Linked DNA regions of Homo sapiens. The protein of the gene in region 1 purifies or fractionates together with the protein of each later gene. This does not show direct contact. Each region holds a gene or a part of one and is shown on either strand. Other genes may lie near its edges.

Region 1 (2,828 bases):
AGACCAGAGGAAGGGTCTGGGAAAGCTGGACTCAGACTAGATGTGGGGAAGGGTAAAGCTGGGACCACAGGCCTTTGTGACTTGTTAAAATCCCACCATAGAGGTTAACAAGGAGTGCTTGCTAGACTTGGAGGTCAGCTGGGATACAGGAGGCAGAGAATTGGGAAAGGCAGCTGAGGGTCTTTGGCTGCTCCAACCGGGAGACCTGAGGAGGGGGCTCTGGGAGACAGGGGCTGATGGGATTTCATGGGACAGGACCTTGGGCAGGCACCTGAGGGCCAATACTCATCACCACTACCCCTCCCACCTCCCCACCCCTCCTTGGCACAGGGTGTGGTCCCCTTCCTGGGGGATTTTCTGACTGAGTTACAGAGGCTGGATTCGGCCATCCCGGACGACCTGGATGTGAGTGAGCCTGGGGCAGGGTGCTTGGGAACCAAGATCCTGAAGCTTGGGAGGAGAGGGTCCTGGACCGAGCCTTTAGATCTCAGCCCTTGGCAAACCTCCTCTCCTAAGAGCCTCACAGCTGCTCCTGTGGGTGGGGGTGTCAGGCCCATCTCATCACCTCTGAGTGATGGAGGCTCCATGGCAGCCACCAGGCCCTATTCCTGAGTGGTGAAGCTGCAGAGCTGCCTGACTGCAAAGCTGCTGAGGTGTGGGCTGAACTGGGCTCAGCTTCTCCCTAGGGTAGTCCCGTAATAGGAGGGTGAAATTGAGCCTCTCCAAGGGCAGGCAGTTCCAAGGTCACTGAGCGCTTTCTTTCTATGAGAGACCTCAGTTTCCCTGTCTGTCATCACAGAGGGTTGGGGCAGAAGGTCCCTGGGCCTCAGCTCCCATTCCCCCTGCTCTAGAGCCCGGAGCCTGAGGCAGGTCCAAGTCCTGTCGTGTGCACATCCCCTGACCCTGGTGGCCCTGGCAGTAGTGCAGCATGGGAAGGGGTGGGGTGGGGCTGGTTGTGGGCCAGGGGCCTTTCTGATGGACTCTGTCTGCCTTCCAGGGCAACACCAACAAGAGGAGCAAGGTGAGCAGCTGGGGCACTCACGTTGGATGAGGGTGGGGATGTGGACGTCACAGTCCACCCTGGGCAGGACACTCCCTGGCTCCATCCTCTACATCTTAGGCTTACTGGGAGTGTTTGACACACACAGGAGGAGGGGACCTATCCCAGGAGAAAATGGGAAAAGCACTGGAATCAAAGACCAATTCCTGCAGGAGGGGCTGTTTATATCCAACTCTGAGAACAGGCTGGGGGCGCTGCATGGGACCCCTTCAGAAAACTGCCCCAGGGACCAGCCCCTTCTCCCTGCCTGCCAAAGGCCCCCACAGCAACTTCCACCCAGGCCCTGTCAGCATCCTGTCCTCTGTCTCTAGGAGGTCCGAGTTCTGCAGGAAATGCAGCTGCTCCAAGTGGCTGCCATGAATTACAGGCTTCGGCCTCTTGAGAAATTTGTCACCTATTTCACAAGAATGGAGCAGCTCAGTGACAAAGAGAGGTGAGGGCCTAGCCCATGGGCTGAGGGTGGGAGAAGGCTCTCCATTTTTTTTTTTTAACATGGTCTGGCTCTGTCGCCCAGGCTGCACTGCAGTGTCACCATCTCTGTTCACTGCAACGTCTGCCTTCTGGGCTCAAGTCCTTCCTCAGCCTCCCAAGCAGCTGGGACTACCGCTGTACACCACCATGTCCGGTTGTTCTGCTGTTGTTGTTCTGGTACAGATGGGGTTTCACGATGATGTCCAGGATCGTCTCAAACTCCTGGCCTCAAGCAATCCACCCACCTCAGCCTCCCAAAGTACTGACGTTACAGGTGTGAGCCACCCCACCTGGCCTAGAGGAGGCTCTCCCGTGGCCAGCTGCAGAGAGCCTATGGCCATGCCTCCACGGCCAGCATCAAGCCCTGTTGCATGGGGACCACTGGGGACCCAGGATTCCAGCTGGGCAGGCACTGACAGGGGACCTGATGTGTGGCTCATGGTGGCCTCACAGCTGCTTCTCTGTCCTGCAGCTACAAGCTGTCCTGCCAGCTGGAGCCCGAAAACCCGTAGGCTGGCAACATCCTGCAGTGGCTGGGAACCCACCGGGATGCTGGCCAGAACACCGGCTCTGCACCATCCCTCACCCAGACCGTAGACACCAGGGAACCACATCTAGGAGGCTGGCAGCTCAGCTGCATCTTGCCCTGGATCCTCATCACCAACTGCTCCTGCTGGCCAGGATCAGGCCATGGGACTTTTGTGAGTCAGGCGGGAGACCATTTTATGTTTATTTTCTTTAGTGTATAAGTAAGGGTTTTTTCTTAACTTTCGTTAAAATAAAATTTTAAAAAACTATTCAAAATGTTCTGTAGTTGTTGGAATGAGAAAAGTAACTCCAGTGCGGTAACCATATACCAGTCTTTAGGATTCATAGCCTAGCATGTCAAATTGAGGCTATGGCTGAACAAGTTATGGAATAGCATTCACATTACACATGCCAAGCATTTAATGTTTTCCTTCTTTATTCAAATTATTGTTAACTCTGCTTAAGAAAACAAACAGAACAAAACAAAACCCCTTAAAAGCCATAGTATGTCACCCAATCTATGTCACCCATAGTATGTCACATTTGTTCTACTGACCAGCTATTCTCAAACTTAAATTCTAGTTAAATTCAAGTTCCACTGGGTTACTCAATTTTCTTAAGGTTTAAATATTTAACAAATCACTTAAATATTTACTGAAGGGCTGGAGATGGGAGGTATTTAAGCAAGTGGTAGGGCTGGCCTTCTCCAGAAGTCCTGGGCAGAAGGGAGCTGGCCATCAGTCTCCACGAAATACAGATAAACTTTTTC
Region 2 (3,500 bases), on another chromosome or scaffold:
TTATTTTTTTTAGAATCTTTCTCTTTCCCTTTATATCTGGTCCAATTCTTTCCCCATTTTCTTGTATGTAAGTATCCAGATCAACCTTGGGGATATCATTTATGACTAGCCAGCTTTTCTGAACCCAAATTGAGACAAGTTCAAGAGTTATTACACAGACCATGGGACAGAATATTTACAATTGGAACAGTCTTAGAAAATCCGAGCTGTGTAGTCACACTGGCTATGATCCAGTTCTTTTACCATAGCTCATATGTTTCATTGAGATGAATCCACCTTCTCACTAATTTATTCTCTAACTACTAAAGCAAGTACATTGTCAAACACAAGAATTTTAAGATACCTGGGAGGGATGCATTGCTAATAGATATGATAATCAAATGTCATTTAATATTTTAATATAATACAGTAAAGTGTCATTTAATATATTCCTTCTTGAGTCAGGAAGCCCTGGAGAAGAGGAGAAAACCCAGGCAGAAGCTTGCTTTTGCACTGAGAAGATACAAATATATATAAAATGCTTTTGAAAATGCAGCCTTCTTAAAGAGAAGGGAGGTAGACATTAGATCATCTCCAGCCCACAGCTTGTTTCATTTCTGCCCTTTCAGCTGTGCTTCCATGATTTCATTCCTTATCCCCTCACCCTAAAGCAGGTTTTTAGTTCCAGCGAATTTGCACCCTGCTTGGCTGTGAAGCCAGCTTTCCCTCTAGGCCCCCAGCTGGTAGGAAATAGCCCTTGGAAGCTGTGGCAGGATGGGAACCCAACTGTGTAAAGGTGCGACACACCTCATCCAGCTCCAAGTGCCAGGCAGCAGGAAGTGCAGGAGGCACTGAGCTCTGGCAGCAGACATTGAAAATGCTGGCAAAATCAGGACAAGGAAGTCTTAGTCTAGCAAAGAAGAGCATTTGATGTCTTTCTAGCAGAAGTGAAGAGTCCTTGGAGGTGGGCAGCTATTTTCTTAACATTTAATTATCCTAACAGCTTTGTTTTCTGAAGCCTGTTTGAGAAGGAAAAGAGAAGATTCCTCCCTATAGACTCTAGGACCTAGAAGGGACTCAGGTGTCACCTAGTGCATTATCTTTGCTTTAGAGAAGGCAAAGCTGAGACTCAGAGACATTAAGTGATTTCCCTGAGGTCACACAGCTTTTAAGTGCCTAGTTGAGATTTGAATCCAGGTCTGTGTGACTCCTAAGTCATCACTCTTGACGACGATAAATATCCTGCTCTCAGCGGGCCTCTGCAGAGGCAGCAGCAGCTTTACTGGGTGTTAGCATAAATCTCCTACATTTGGCATTTGCCACAACTGGAAGCCTCCTTCCAACCAGCAGGAAATCTTATCCTTGAATCACAGGCCCCCAGCAGTGCTCATGTCATATCATAATCACAGCTCAGTTCCTAGATGGTTGCCCTTGATACTTTCTCTTTTTTTTCCTCTTCAGCTTCTATTCCTCTTTTTAGTCTCTTTCTCTCAGCAATTTTTTCCTCTTTTCCTCTTTGCTCTTTCCTTCTTGTTCTCGCTTCTATTCCGTAAGATTAGGGGCTTAATAATAACAGAAATTTATCAAGTGCTTACTATGTTCCAGGCTCTGGGATCAGCATTTTATTTTATTTTATTTTATTTTATTTTATTTTATTTTATTTTAAGACGGAATCTCACTCTCTCCGTCACCCAGGGTAGAGTGCAGTGGTGCGATCTCAGCTCACTGCACCCTCTGCCTCCCAGGTTCAAGCGATTCTCCTTCCTCAGCCTCCCTAGTAGCTGGGATTATAGGCATGTGCCACCACGCCCAGCTAATTTTTGTATTTTTAGTAGAGATGGGGTTTCACCATGTTGTCCAGGCTGCTCTTGAACTTCTGATCTCAAGCGATCCACCTGCCTCAGCCTCCCAAAGTGTCAGGATGACAGGCATGAGCCGTCGCACCTGGCCATGGGTTGAACACTTTTTATCCATCATCTGATTTGTGCCCCACAACAACCCCACAAGATAGGTATTCTTATTATCACCCTTGCTTTGCAAAGAAGAAACTGAAGCCAAGGGAGGTTAGAGTGCACAACTAGGAAGTGTTGGGGACCCCATCCTGACTGACATCACATCAGCTGCGCTTTTTCCATTACTCCATATTCAGCCCAACGAGAGAGTGGAGTGACTAAAATGTACCACTGGAAGGTGCTCAACATAGATTTGGCTGAGGCTGGGCCCTCTGGAAAGTTCTTGGGTGCTATATGATACTATAGCTGTCAGTCATCATGTTCATTTTCATCTGGAGACGGTTAATCATACTCATACTCCAGAGGCTTAAGAGGTTTAAGAGATGGGAGCAAAAAAGTCCAAAGTCCTAATAGGGCTACACAGCTGACTCTCCAGAGGAGACTGGATGAGTGAAATCATAAATATATAGCTTCACACATTTCCACACCACCATTTGTCTGACAGTTTTAAAGTACATGACAAGTTATGGAAAACATCTGACTCAAAGGCAGTGACCTCCTGCAAGGTGCCAGTGAATCTGGTGAACTGCTAAGTCAAGAGACCATTTCTAGGGTTATGGGGGTTATTGGCTGTGAATATATGGAGACACTAAAAGGGCCCCTTCCTTCATCCTTTTAAGTCAAAAATTAAAGACCCCAGCCTATAATTACTTGGGTTGGGTTGAATTAACCAGCAAGGGAGTCAAAGAAATCAGAGCTTCTCTTGGCTGAGGTATTGACCATCTCATCCTGGGTGTCCATGTATGCACCAAGTGGGTAAGGGTGCCTATCCTCACTTAAAACCATCCCTTTGTCCCCCTGTCAAGATAGAACTCTGGGACTGAGGGCAGCTTTGGAAGTCACTTTGCTTATGTTGGATGCCACTTACCCTCCCCCTCCGCACACACACACACACACACACACACACACACACACACACCACGCACACACACACACACATACACACACACATAAATGTCCTCAAAGGTACACTAGAGATTTTGACTGAAACTTCTCTTAGCATTACTGAGAAATTTATTCATTAACATGTCTTAAAGGATTTGGTGCTATGGCAAAGCAATAAATATTTGCAAAGGGAGTGAATTATCAACCTGGTGTTTCTGAATGCAGTTCTCCTGCTGAGACCAAAGGAGAGCCATCAGACTATAATTGTGTTTAATGCTTTCTGTGCACTGGCTAGGGTTTATTTATTTATTTAGGGTTATTACCGATGACTTAAGCCTGATTAAATCACACTGTTTCTGCAGCTCAACCTCTCAATGAACTTCTAGATACCTTGAGGCTAATGTGTTTTACTCAACGAATTCAACCTTTTCCAGTATTCTCTTCCCCAGGCTGAGCCTATCTCTCTTCCTATTTTCTTCAGCTCATAGTCCCAGGTGTCCAGTCCCCTCCTCTTGCCTCTGATCCCTGCATTTCTTTTGCGATATTAGTCATTTCCTCTAGCCCAAGGTAAATGTGAAAATTACACTAGATCCTTCCAATCCATAAATCAGGCTGTATAATGTA

Evidence for each region. Proteins that work in one complex are often made in the same cells at the same time.
Region 2: the proteins of RGL4 (region 1) and DCX purify together in Homo sapiens (affinity purification with mass spectrometry; 2 studies listed by BioGRID and IntAct, with this or other methods). This does not show direct contact.

What each region holds. Positions count from the first base shown.
Region 1 is NC_000022.11:23,696,841-23,699,668, forward strand, and holds the end of RGL4 (ral-GDS-related protein), read left to right. Parts: intron 1-330; coding exon 331-405; intron 406-997; coding exon 998-1,021; intron 1,022-1,371; coding exon 1,372-1,493; intron 1,494-1,714; coding exon of another isoform or gene 1,715-1,805; intron 1,806-2,003; coding exon 2,004-2,043; coding exon of another isoform or gene 2,044-2,273; 3' UTR 2,274-2,328; downstream 2,329-2,828.
Region 2 is NC_000023.11:111,402,193-111,405,692, reverse strand, and holds part of DCX (neuronal migration protein doublecortin), read left to right. Parts: intron 1-3,500. UniProt on the Homo sapiens protein: Microtubule-associated protein required for initial steps of neuronal dispersion and cortex lamination during cerebral cortex development. May act by competing with the putative neuronal protein kinase DCLK1 in binding to a target protein.